2 linked regions of the Homo sapiens genome follow. The gene in region 1 interacts genetically with each later gene. Each region holds a gene or a part of one and is shown on either strand. Other genes may lie near its edges.

Region 1 (7,025 bases):
AAGTGGGATTCCTGGATCATACAGTAGTTCTGTTTTTAATATTTTGAGGAACTGCCTTGATGTTTTTCTTATTGGTTGAACTATTTTACAACTCAGTACACAAGGGTTCCTTCCGAATTCTCCACATCCTCACCAACACTTATTTTTCTCTTTTTTGATAGTAGTCATCCTAATGGGGGTGAGGTGGTATCTCATTGTGGTGTTGCTGTGCATTTATTTATTGATTAGTGATGTTAAGCATCGTTTCATATGCTTATTGGCCACTTCTGTATCACCTCTAGAGAAATGTCTATTCAAGCCCTTTGACCATTTTTTAATCAGGTTACTCGATGTTTTTAGTTGCTGAATTGTAGGAGTCCTTTATATATTCTGAATATTAATCCATTATAAGATATATGATTTGCAAAGATTTTCTCCCATTCCATACACATAGTACCATTTGTCTATTTTTGCTTTTGTTCACTGCTTTTTGGTGTCATATCCAAGAAATCATTACCAAGTCTACTGTCCAGCTTTTCCTCCATGTTTTCTTCTAGGAGTTTTATAGTCTTAGTCTTACTAGGTCTTTAATCCATTTGAGTTAATTTTTGGATATGGGATAAGGCCCCAGCTTCACTTTGGAATATGCATATCTGTTTGGTTATCCCAGTACTGTTTGTTGAAGAGACTGTTCTTTCCCCATTGAGTGGTCTTGGCAGTCTTGTCAAAAATCATTTGACTATTTATGTGAAGGTTTATTTTTGGGCTCTCTATTCTATTCCACTGGTCTATTTGTCTTTACGGCAGTACTAAGCTGTTTCAATTACTGCAGCTTTGTAATTGGGGAGTGTGAGTTCTCCAATTTTGTTCTTCTTCAAAATTGTTTTGGCTAGTCAGTGTCTATGAGATTCCATATGAATTTTAAGGTGATTTTTTTTATTTCCTAAAAAAAAAAGCCATGGGAATTTTGATAGAGATTATATTGAATCTGTGGATTACTTTGGGTAGTATGGACATCTTAAGCATCCAGTGATCTTTAAGATAATATGTTACTATCTCATGTTCACTTTTAGATTTTCATATTGTGGTTGATTCAGTATATTTATTTCAATTATAATGTTTCAAATATTTCAATGGTACAGAAAAATATAGAGAATTATTTATTTTTTCAGCCAATATTTGATTGCATACTCTGTGCTTATCTACAATAAAGATTTAATAAATGTTGACATTTTGTCATATTTGTCTCATATTTCCTTTCAAAATTACTATTGCAGGAACATTATATCATTATCATAAAATATAAGAAAAAATGCTCTACTGACAAATCAACCTATTTTCAGTTTTCCTTTTTAGTACTTTACTATACCACATTTTTCCAGTAGTAATCCTAACTTAGATGACATGTTGTAATCTGTTTCTTGCTTATATTATAAGCATTTTTTCATACTGCAGTATGTTCTTTGTAGTTATTCTTTTGATGAAACATCCTTTTGCCAACCAAGTATAAGAAAGGCTTAATCTTGGCACTACCACTTACTAGCTTTGTGATCTTAAGAAAGTTTCCTAAATTCACAGAAACTAATAGCAATAAAAAGTAAACTTGTAATTATCTTAAAATGAATATTAACAGTGACCCATACAACAAGACTGTTGGAAGGATTGAATGTATATTAAAATGTCTAGGACTTAGTAGGTCCTTAATAAGTGCTAGTTTCCTTCCCTTTCCTTTTCCCAGGGATCTAGTTTTTAATCCTGTTCCTCCAGGGGTTGCCCTCGGAGACTCAGAACTTGCTCTTATTCCTCCAGACCAAGAAAGACCATCCATACACCTGGAGAATTGAACTGGCAAAAACAGAAAAATACTGGGACGGCTGGTTCCGAGGCTTATCCAATCTCTTTCTTAGTTGTCCCATTCCTAAATTGCTGCTCTTGGCTGGTAAGTGTATATGTGCATATATTAGTCAGCTCAGGCTGCCATAACCAAATATCATAGACTGAGTGGCTTAAACAACAGAAATTTATTTTCTCACAGTTCTGGAGGCTGGAAGTCTGAGATCAGGGTGCCAGCATGGTCAGGTTGTGGTGAGGGCTGTCTTCCTGGCTTGCCTTCTCTCTGTGCCCTCACATGGCCGAGAAAGAGTGAATGTGAGCTCTCTGGTGTCTCTTCTCTTAAGGATATTAATTAGGGACGTTCATCCTATCATGTCAGAGCTCTGCCCTCATGACCTGAGGTTACGTCCTTATAGGCCCTAGTTCCAAATACAGTCACATTGGGAATTGGGGCTTCAACATGAGTTTTAGGGGGACACAACTCAGTCCATAGCAGTGTTGGTATATTGTCATCTCAATATGACCTCATTAAAACTTCTCACCAAATGAGTAGTGACATCCAAAGTAGAGTACCTTCCTCATTCATCTATGCCTTTTCTCCTCCCCACACCCAGTCTCTAAACCTAACTAAGCATAAGCATTCATCTAAGCATAAAGGATGACCTAATTCTGGCCTGGCCTGTCTACTTGGTCAAGCTCAAGTCCTTCTTAGTCTAGAGCTAGATGCAGTGGTATAAGGATATTCTGATTATTATGAGAATTAAAATAGTAAAACCTTGTTTTCAGAACCAGTTTAACATAGTAATTATAGGGGAATCTCAACCTGAAAAGTTTTATCTGGTGGTGAGAGTATGCTCTGGGAGTTAGGATTGGTATAAACATGAATGGAGAATGTCATCATATTTAAAACTTTGTAACACTTTTTACTTAATACGTGAACAGCAAAATCTGTTTCACAATGAATTCTCTTGTTTTCTAGGTGTTGATAGATTGGATAAAGATCTGACCATTGGCCAGATGCAAGGTAAGTTATCAAGAAATTATACCCCTGGACCCTTTTCTGAAGAAAGGGTGATAGGGCAGTTAACATCCTGAGATAGTGAGGTATAACGGAGAAAGCATGAGCTTTAGAGTCCGACCCAAGTTGGACATCCGCCTCTACTCCTAACACACTATATGATTATGGGCAAGTATTTCCCTTTCCTGAGCTTTAATTTGTTTAAAAAAAAATCCATCCAAAAATGAAGATTATAATACTACTACCTATGTCTCAGTTATAAGAGTTAAAATGAGGCAATGTGTTTAAAAATTATAAAGTACTGTATAGGTGTATGATACTGTGAAAAGAGATATTCTGACTACTGATCAGTTTTTTGTTTGTGGGTTTTTTTTTTTTTTTTTTTTTTGAATTGGAGTCTCACTCTGTTGCCCAGGCTGGAGTGCGGTGGGACCAATCTCGGCTCACTGCAACCTCTACCTCCCAGGTTGAAGCAGTTCCGGGCCTCACCCACCCCAGTAGTGGGATTACAGGCATGCACCACCACGCCCAGCTAATTTTTGTATTTTTAGTAGAGATGGAGTTTCACCATTTTGGCCAGGCTGGTCTCAAGCTCCTGACCTCAAGTGATCCACCTGCCTTGGCCTCCCAGAGTGCGAAGATTATAGGTGTGAGCCACTGCAGCTGGCCAGTATTTTTCTTATTGTTAGAAGTTTTAGGAAAGGGAAAGGCTCAAGATAATCCAGATATAAAAAGGTATAAATACCTGTTTAGAAGACAGCATGGTAAGATGGTAAAAGTAAGGTCTCTGAAGTTCGGAAAACTGAGTTTTGAATACTGCTTTTCCAGTAATTTTTTGACTCTGGGCAAGTTATCTGACTTGCCTCAGCTTTAGTCTTCTTAATCTGGAAAATGAAAAAACTGATGGCAGCCTCAAACAGATCGTGGGGTATAATGAGTAGGAAAGTGACATGCTGAGCACTGTATACAGATGCATGTATGTTAGCTAGATAACAGTGGAGGCAGCGGGTCCAATTTTGTGGGGGCTCTTGCTTTAGTACGGGTAAAAGACTCAGTGAAGGTGAAGCCAGTAGGCATACAACTTTTGGGTTATGGGAAGAAGAGGTGCCAACTCCAAGACCAAAGTTTCAGGCTCAGGCAGAATCTGTTCTAGACCTTTCTTCCCTACTTACTCTCCCTGGACAATTTCATGGCTTCCATTTATATATTGATGACTCCCAAAGCTAAACATCCACCTCACCCCTCTCTCCTGAGATCCAGTCCTAGCCTATGTAGCAAACCTGCTGGATATCTCATGGGCCTCTCAAACTGTTCTTTTAGCTATCCTCAAGCTTTCCACAGCAAAAGGAGCTATATTCTCTCATAATAGTTGTTCAAAGGCTCTCACATATAAAACTCTGGTCCCAGACCTTCATGGCTTTGCCTTCCTTTAACTACATTGTATCCTGAGGCCTAGAATAGGACTATGAGCTGGGACTGTGTGATTTTTTTTCCATGGCACTGATGTTGGTAATTATGGGCTTAGACACTTATTTAAGTAGATGCTTATAAATGTCTAAGCCCGTAATTACCAACATGAGTGCCATGAAATTGAATCTAAGACACTTAAGTTCAATTCAAGAAACCTTTCCTAGGCACCCTTTCTGTGCAAGACCTATGCATGATGCTGGGCAGACAGAAGAATCAGATATGGCCCCTGAGACTGCCTGAAGGCAGTTGACATGGACTGGGATAGCATTTGAAATCATTGTTGATCACCAGCCTTGGAATCAGACAATCCTGGGTTTGAATCACTGTTAATAGTTTTGCGGTATGAGTGAATTCCTAACTTATTTAATTTTGAGTTTCTTCATCTGTGAAATGGAGATAATGATATATCTCAGTACAGTTACATGAAGTTTAAATGAAAAAAATGCGGGTAGTCTAACAAATGATGCCTTTCATTATATTCAGGAAGTAATCACGATTCCTTATGAGATGTCCTCCTGTTTCCTCAATATGGATTATATCAAGACCACCTTCTGGTTTAAAGAAAGCCTCCTATGAGTATAGAGAGTAAATGGCGAGGATAAGGAACATTCCACAGAACAAAGGGAAATGGCTAAGGCTGCATAGATTCCAAACCACAGCTTTGCCAGCACTGTGTTCAAACCAACTGACTTAGTTATGAAATCCTGGAAAACTACCACCTATTCATAGTACCCCTTGGGTAAATAATTTAGGCTCTCTGAACCTAAGGCTCCTAATCTGTGCAATGGGAGAGAAGAGTTTGGAAATATTCCCACCTCATAGAATAATCATGAGGATTACCCATGAACATGTTATTTTATGTGTACCTGGCACAGTGTTGTTGGTGTATGTGAGTTCTCTCTGATTATACCTACTCTTCCAAAGAGGAAGGACAAATGCGTCCCTAGTCATCAGAGCTGATCTAACAGAAAGAACAGGGAGATTGGAGTTGTAAGTTTTGGATCTAGTCATTTGTTCATCATTCATTCGCTAAAGACTTAAGCATCTACTCAGTGCCCTACCCTGTGTTAGGTCTTATTAGGGATATAGAGCAAGTAATAACACCATTGTCCCCTGTTCTTATGGAAATGACACACTCCTGGGGAGGCAAGCACCAGTGGCATGTAAAATGTAAACTTACTTGAAACTTACAAGAGGGCCATGTGCTGCTCTGTGTTTGGATCCAAGTGCATTAACAACTTTAGGAGCTAGAAGGGAGAGGTGACTAGGCTTGAGCACCCAGAGAGAGGCAGCTTACTGCAGGAGGAGGGGCACAGGATGGACTTTACTAAATGGGATCATCTTATTCCTCCACTAATTAATGAAGTGGCCTTGGGCAGGTTACTTCACTAATCATGGCCTCAGTTTCATCATCTCAGAAAAGAATTTCAGTATTTTTGTGCTTAATTGTATAGGGTAGATTTTGAGAATCAACTTTAAAAATGGATAGAAGAATACACTGAAAACTTTTGAATCCTGCGTAACTGGGGTAAGAACCACAGGATGTAATGACCAGAAGAACTTTCAAGCCCATTCCTTTATTTTATAAATAGAGAATCTGAGGCTGAGAAAATCTGCTGTCTCTACTTATGGGGGCTCTGGGTCTCATATCCTTTAGTCTCCTTAGGGATCTTCTTTATCAGTCATCGCTGTTCATTCTCAATCATTGTCGCATTAGTTACGAGCTTACAGTGTTCTGTAAGACAGTATGAGAAAGTGCTTAGTACAATGCCTGGCACATGCTTAAGTGCTCAGATGGTAACTTATTATTGTAATAATACATTTTGAATCCTTAACATAGCTTACAAAATCCTTAATGGTTTGGCCCCTGCTTACCTCTCCAGCCTTATTGTTAACCACTCTCATAAGCACCATGCCAAGCTTCTTGTATTCCAAGCCATTTCAAGCCTTCCTTCCTTCCTGGTTCCCTCTTGGATTGTGAAGTTCCCTTTCTTATGCTCTTACAGCCCCATGTAGCCAGTTTTATCATAGGAATGACATGCTGCATTAAAATGTTGGTTTTTGTGTTTTACTCCCCTACTGGACTGTAAATCCCCTGAGGACAAGAACTGTTTCTTCTATGTGTCTCTGGCCCACAGTAAATGTACACTAAATAGGACAGAAGGAAAAAGTGAAGGGAAATGATTGGCGCAAGGTTACAATTACTTGTATTACCATCCTCAGCAAGACTTGATAATTGGGTCCAGAGTATTGAGGTGAGGTTGGAAATGGGGAGGTAGGTCCTGGGCTCCTGGAATGACCTATGAGGCTGCATAAGAGAGGGCTCTTTTAGTCGCTGAAGTTGCCTTGCTTTGATTCCTCTCCAGGGAAGTTCCAGATGCAGGTCCTACCCCAGTGTGGCCATGCAGTCCATGAGGATGCCCCTGACAAGGTGAGTCTGGTGCTCAGTGACTGTAAAAGGACAACTGTGAGAATAACCCTGGATGTCACAGAAGACAAGTCTCTGAGTCTCAGCCTGCATTGCCTGCAGCAGCTGCTGTGGAGCCTATGCAGATGCAGTTCCACCAGCTCTCCAACTTCTCCCTGGCAGCTGCTTATGGTATTGGTTTTGTGTATATGTGCTGAGGAGCTACTGACACTCTGCTATTTCATCCCAGGGCCCTGTGGTTAAGATCTTAAGCTCTACTTCTCCAATACCCCCAAAAGCCAGAGATGGAAGAGGGAT
Region 2 (6,852 bases), on another chromosome or scaffold:
CCATCTGGTGGATCCCTTGCAACTTAAAAAAAAAAGGTTGGATAGACACTATTAAAAATCGGGTTGTTGTTTTTTTTTTTTTTTCCTGGTTGAGTTTATTTTACAGCCAGTTTTTCCAGAAAGGTATTTAACAGCTGATATAAACTTGACATGCAACTACTTCAACCCAGTCTTAGAAAATTAGTTAATAAATGCCAAGAACAGACAAGGTCTTCTGGAATAGACAGATGAGTAAGCCAGAGTCATGCTCTCAAGACACCTAAAAGCTAGTAGGGGCAGATAAAACACGCACACAACTTGCAAGAACCCAAGGCAGCAAGATGTGTGTGTAAACATGCCACAACATACACAATAAAGTTCCCAAAAAAGGAGAAAGAGAAAGCTAGGCTCAAGATCAAAGAACTGCACCAGCATACAATCCAATAAACCATTAAAATCCATTAGTGAATTAAATAAGTCAAAAGAGTAAGACACAATGAATGCTAATAAAACTTAGTAAGGCACAGAAGTCCAGATTCTAATTCTGGTTCTGCTGAAACTAGCTTCTAGCTCTGTGATATTAAACCACTATTCCTTACAAACCTCCTCTACCTGTTTAACGTGCTGTTGTGAGGATTAAATCGGCTCCCAGAATCTTCACTTCCCAGTAACTTTATCTCCCAGATTCCCTCCCATATCAGAATCTCCTCATAGGCAGTTAGTTATTCAACTTCTTCCTGAGTACTTCCAGTAAGGGGAACTTCATTATTTCTCAATAGCGATTACTACATCTGGGACAGCACTGATTCTTACAAATGTTCTTGCTTAGTGAAACCAAGATCAGTCTCTCAGAAAGTTCTATCCTACGGTCTTACACAGAAAAACAACAGAAAATTGGAAAAGCCTAAGAAAGTAACATGTAACGAAAACATGAAACACGAAAACAATGCACCGGTGTGAGAGCTCACCAGCACTTGGGAGGCCAAGGCCGGAGAAGCGCTTGAGCCCAGGAGTTTGAGACTAGACTCGGCAACATAGTGAGACCTCCTCTCTCAAAAAAAAAAAAAATAAACAAAAATTAGCCGGGCGTGTCAGCACACGCATGCAGTCCCAGCCACTCAGGAGGCTGAGGTGGGAGGATCAATTAGAGGTTGCAGTGAGCCAAGACGGGGCCACTGCACTCCAGCCTGGGCGACAGAGCGAGACCCTGTCTCAACAAAGAAAAAGGAAAAAGGAAAGGAAGGGAGAAAGGAAAGGAAAAAGGAAAGGAAAGGAGAAATGAAAGGAATGGAAAGGAAAAAGGAGAAAGGAGAGGAAAGGAAAAAGGAGAAAGGAGAGGAAAGGAAAGGAAAGGAAAGGGTCAGATAAATCACCCTTAACCAAGAAATTTTAGGGAAGTCTTCACAGAGAGTAGGTATCTGCTGGTTCTCCAAGGTGGGAAGAGTTGATCCGTGGCTTCAAACTCCAGGTCTTTTTTTTTTTTTCTTTGAAAAGGTCTTGTGTTAGGGAGGAACTGGCAAGAGAGCACAAAGCCTGTCCCAAAGGGCTCTTGAAGCACATTCTTTTTTGCAGATGAGCATATCCCTTTAGCATATGAGCAAGAAAGCGGTGGCTAAAAAGCCTGGAGGTGAGCTGGAGCCAGATCAGAAGAAACCTGAACATCACTCTCCTAAAAAGGCTGGACTGAAATTAGTGGAGGCAACTCACCGACGACTTCTGACAAGATGGCAGAATTCAATGTTCGGGAAGATTAGTTACGTGGAGATGGGCTGGATGTGGCCTGGGTGGGAGTGGGGGTTTGAGTGCCACACTGGCCGGGATTCAGGGAGCAGATACTGGAAATGACGACAAAGCCCACGACTGGGAGAAGGGAGAAATGTTAAAACGCTGCCAAGTGACTAAGGACTAATTCTATTAACAGATTAAAAAGTTGATTTCTAGTATCTATTCAGGGAAGGACAAAATACAGGATTCTGTTTTACTTATAAATGTAGTTTTGGCATCCCACATCGCTGCAGCACGCTGTACTGCCGGAGACTAATTCCTCTGCGTTCCTAAAGGCTACTTCCTGCTAGCCAAAGCACATTTTTAAAAAGTGAGAGTCATGGTTCATAATCCATATTTGGCAAAAAGCACAGGCAGTGCCAAGTTGAATTTGGGTAAGCAGTTTGGCATAAGCTATTTCAACAATGAAATGGCCGATGTGATGATCCTCAGGGAATACAAAAAGCCTCCTAGCAGCCTTCTGTTAAAAACTTTTTGGTAGGGATGAGTCTTTCTAGCTACTCTAAGACACATCTGATCAATAAAACGCCCATCCCGGAGCAGCATCTTGGCCCTCCGGAGATCAACGTTTATAGCGGGCTCCTCTTGGACTCTCCCTCTCCCTTTCCCTAAAGGAGCGGGCAAGACCAGGCCTCACCGGAAAACAGCGCAGCCGACCGCCCTCCACCCCGGGAGCAGGGGCCGGGCTCCCCTCCCCCAGCCGAGGCCGGCGGAGTGCGGCGCTTTCAAAGGCCTGGAGCCTGGTACTCGGCGCAGCCGGCCCTGCAGCCTCGCTCGCCCCATCCCGGCCCGCTCACCTCGACCCGGGCCGGCTCGGGGCCCTGCACAGCCACAGGCTGCGGCTGCAGCTGCTGGGCCGGCGCCGGCGGTTCTTTGTTCCGGTGGCTAAGGTCTTCATCTGGGCCGGCCCGGACCGCAGCCGGGGCCCACAGCAGCGGAACCAGAAAGAGCAGAAGCAGCCGGGGCGCCGATGCGCGGCCGTTCCCTGGAGCCGCGGCCGCCATCCCGCCTGCCGGGCCGGCCGCGCACGGGCGCCGCAAGAGGAAGTGCCGGCGACGGGAAGCCTCGACCCCGAACAGCCTCCGCGGCGCGTCCTCACGACTCGCCGCCGCCGCCGCTTAGGGAGCAGTCAGCACCATCCGGGAGGTGCAAGCAGCGGGAGTGAGGTGAGGGGCAGGCCGAAGTCCGCAGCCCCGGCTCGGCGCCCGTCCTCTCCGGCGGCGGCTAAACTGGAGTCAGCCAGCTGCCTCGGCGCGGCCCAGCCCCGACTCCTCCCGGCCCCGTCCCTGCCCGCGACGGCCTCCCATTGGCCCGGCGACCGCCTTGGCGTCGTGACGTCCTCTGCCAGGTTGAGGTGCGGCGCGGGCCCTCCTCCCATTGGATCCGGCGCTCCCGGCAGGTACCCGGCGCCGCGTGTCCTTCCTCTGCTCGCATCCTCACCGCGCCGCGCCCGGGGCTCCCTTTCTCTCTCTGTGCCCCACCGTCCCAGGACTGCGAGGTCCTTCACTTCTGCTTCCTCCAGAGCCTTCCGCCGTAATGTCCGCACCCGCTGTTCCCTGCGCTTAGTCTCTCTTAGAGGTCAAATTAGTGCGAGCGCCTCTGGTTACGTGGCGCTGACTCGCAGGCACTGCCACGCCCAGCTCTGTTCCGCTCTCCCCCGCCGAGCCTCTGTGCCACCCTCCATGTGGCCACCTACCGCCAAAAACGTTCTTAGGAGCTCAAAATGCTATTTTTTTTTTAAAGTTCTGAAATGGGATTTGGAAATAACATGACATTTTTCAAGCCTTGTTTTAAGATACTGCCTATAATTACCCCAGACCAAAAATGGCTAACGTTGCCCTTGTCCAGTATGGCCTTGACGTTTTGGGTGCATCTTGTTTTGTGCTATTCCTTAGACCCTTTAAAAATGCTGGGCTTTTGAAATGGACTGTTTAAGACTTTTGCAGGATGGAGCTTTGAGTGGGCAAGACTAGAAGACAGGAAAGGATGGTCTTGAGTTAGGCTTGAGAATATTTTTACGTCTTCCCAAAAGAAAAAGTGAGCTACTTAATTACCATAAGTTTGAGACCTAGTCCCTAATAAAAATCGATAGTGCTAACCATGTGCCAGGCACTAATCTAATATTATACATATTTACATACAGTAAACCTGTACTCAGTAAAGAGCTAAGGAAGTTTATCACTAACTGAAACAAAAAATTAATCCACCAAAACAATCTGTGGGAAAGTGGGCAAACCTACTTTGAGTTCACCAAAGATACAGTGTTTGTCACAGGATAATAAAATTTCCGTCTGTTTTTTTGTTTTGTTGTTTTCTTTGTTTTTGTTTTTGAGACGGAGTTTCGCGCTTGTTGCTCAGGATGGAGTGCAATGGTGAGATCTCGGCCCACTGCAACCTCCTCCTCCCGGGTACAAGAGATTCTCCTGCCTCAGCTTCCCGAGTAGCTGGGATTACAGGCATGCTCCACCATACGCGGCTAACTTTGTAATTTTAGTAGAGATGGGGTTTCTCCATGTTGGTCAGGCTGGTCTCGAACTCCAGACCTCAGGTGATCTGCCGGCCTCGTCCTCTCAAAGTGCTGGGATTACAGGTGTGAGCCACCGCGGCCGGCCTCCGTCCATGTTATTCTGTCCGTAATTCCCCTTCTTCCATTCTCTCCTTGTAAACTCCTACTCATACTTCCAAAACCTATTCAAGCTTCCACTCTCAGAACTTTTCCCCAACACATGGCGTTACAGAATTTGTCACTTGTTCCTTCATGTTATTGCTTTATGCATTCTTCTATTACTGTGTAAGTAGGATGCCTCCACTTACAGTTTGGGGTGTGTTAAAAGAAAAACCTTAGACAAATTAAACTTAACAGCGTTTAATCAAGCAAAGAACCCAAAGAATGATCTGCAAATCAAAAAGACCCCAAATCAAAGTAAGTTCAGAGAGGCTCCAGTCTTGCCGAGTGGTCGGAAAAAATAAAGTGACTTACAGAAAACATAATTGAGGGACAGAAACAGCTGGATTGGTTGTAGCTCAGGTTTGCCCTATTTGAACACGGTTTGAACAGTTGGCCACTTGTGATTGGCCAGAACTCTGTGATTGGTACAAGAATAGGTTACAGTCTGTTTACATACCCAATTAGGCTACAGTTCACCATGTATGGGGAAACCTTTAGGCCTAACTTAAAATATGTAAGGAGGCAGCTTTACACTAAATTTAACAGATGCAACTATCATCCCTGGAGTGCAAATGTTTGAGCTTTCAGAAGCCAGTAATAACATAAAACCCAGAAGCCCAAACTTCAACTACCTCCCCTTAATGCATACAGGATTTGCTGTGCTTAAAAGGGGCCTGAAAGGGAGGCTTGAGGTCCCAAGGGAGGGACCTGAAAGGAGCAGCTTAGGCTGAAGACAGAGCCAGAAGGGTGAATGTAGCAAAACTGGCTGTGTGTCCCTCATTGCTGAAAGCTGCTTTGTTTATTTTCTAGGATGGGCTGCCCACACTCCAGGGCTTTCTCACAGGAAGGACTCCTGGCCAAATTCAGTCATCTCAACATATGAGGCAGTGAGGACTTCTGGGCTACAGCTGCAGGATGCTGAAGCACCAGCTGCTGAGCATGCAGTGGTTCAGGGGCAAGGCAGCAAAGCTATTTGGCAGAAGATGTAACATAAATGGAGATAGAGCATTGGCGAACTGGCACAGTGGTGTCAGCAAAGCATCAGAATCTGGGCCAGAGTGAGACCTTTCTAGCCTGCCCCAGTGTCACCCTGATCCAAGGGCCTTCAGGTGCTGCCAGGCTAGGCTCTAGGTGTCTGATTCTCATGGGATCTGGTATTTCTGTTTCCACACACATCTACCTCCTGGGATCCGTGCTCAGGCGTGCTAAATCGAGGCTGGCTCCAGTTTTCACCACCTTGAGGGTTTAGAGCCATCATCCTTCTAGTCCTCATTGGTGACTAACTCCCTTAAAAAAAGCAATTAAAAAACTATAGGAGCTTTCCTGATACCTTTCTTGAAGGACAACTGAAGCTACTTATTTAACCCCCTACCCAATAAGGATGTGGGTGGCGCAACAATTCCAAGATGATATATTTTTTAATCATAGCCTACACCGATATAGTCTTACTAAAATGTAACCACTGTCAGGCATCCTATGGAAAGAAACCCTACTACATGTGCATTACATTGTATTTTATTTAATTAATTTATTTATTTATTTTTGAGGTGGAGTCTCGCTCTGTTGCCCAGGCTGGAATGCAGTGGCAAGATCTCGGCTCACTGCAGCCTCCGCCTCCCGGGTTCAAGCAATTCTCCTGCCTCAGCCTCCTGAGTAGCTGGGATTACAGGCATGTGCTACACGCCCCACTAATTTTTTGTATTTTTAGTAGAGACGGGTTTACCATGTTAGCCAGGATGGTCTTGATCTCCTGACCTCGTGATCCGTCCGCCTTGGCCTCCCAAAAGTGCTGGGATTATAGGCATGAGCCACTGTGCCTGACCTATATTTTATTTTTTATTTATTTATGTAGAGATGGAGTCTCGCTCTGTCACCCAGGCTGGAGTGCAGTGGTGCGATCTCAGCTCACTGCAACCTCTACCTCCCAGGTTCAAGCGATTCTCCTGCCGCAGCCTCCAAAGTAGCTGGGACTATAGGCGCCCGCCACCATGCCTGGCTAATTTTTGTATTTTTAGTAGAGACAGGGTTTCACCATGTTAGCAAGGCAGGTCTCGAACTCCTGACCTCAAGTAATCCATCCACCTCGGCCTCCCAAAGTGCTGGGATTGCAGGTGTGAGCCACTGAGCCGGGCCTGCACTGTATTTTAATGTCTTTTATTCCAACACCCTTACTAAGCCTTAAGCTTCTAGATGGTAAGGTTATGCCTTTTATCTTTATATTTCTAGCACCTAGTAGATTATATAAGAAGGTAATGGGAATAGTTATCATTAAAGTAGTAGTAAAACTTTATTGAATGCTATTCTGATCCAGTCAGAGCACTAAGTGTGTTACATGAATTATTTCTATCCTCCTTTTTGCAAATGAGAAATCTGAGACTTAGGTCAAGGAACTTTCCTCAAATTACACAGCTAGTAAGTAG

The links.
Region 2: changes in PPME1 (region 1) and TMEM165 are lethal when combined (synthetic lethality), as found in Homo sapiens cells (one study listed by BioGRID).

What each region holds. Positions count from the first base shown.
Region 1 is NC_000011.10:74,244,288-74,251,312, forward strand, and holds part of PPME1 (protein phosphatase methylesterase 1), read left to right. Parts: exon of another isoform or gene 1-1,208; intron 1,209-1,746; coding exon of another isoform or gene 1,747-1,788; coding exon 1,789-1,918; intron 1,919-2,791; coding exon 2,792-2,836; intron 2,837-5,858; exon of another isoform or gene 5,859-6,035; intron 6,036-6,666; coding exon 6,667-6,731; coding exon of another isoform or gene 6,732-6,971; exon of another isoform or gene 6,972-7,025. UniProt on the Homo sapiens protein: Demethylates proteins that have been reversibly carboxymethylated. Demethylates PPP2CB (in vitro) and PPP2CA. Binding to PPP2CA displaces the manganese ion and inactivates the enzyme.
Region 2 is NC_000004.12:55,392,106-55,398,957, reverse strand, and holds the start of TMEM165 (putative divalent cation/proton antiporter TMEM165 precursor), read right to left. Parts: upstream 3,002-6,852; 5' UTR 2,769-3,001; coding exon 2,562-2,768; intron 1,840-2,561; exon of another isoform or gene 1,687-1,839; intron 1-1,686. UniProt on the Homo sapiens protein: Putative divalent cation:proton antiporter that exchanges calcium or manganese ions for protons across the Golgi membrane.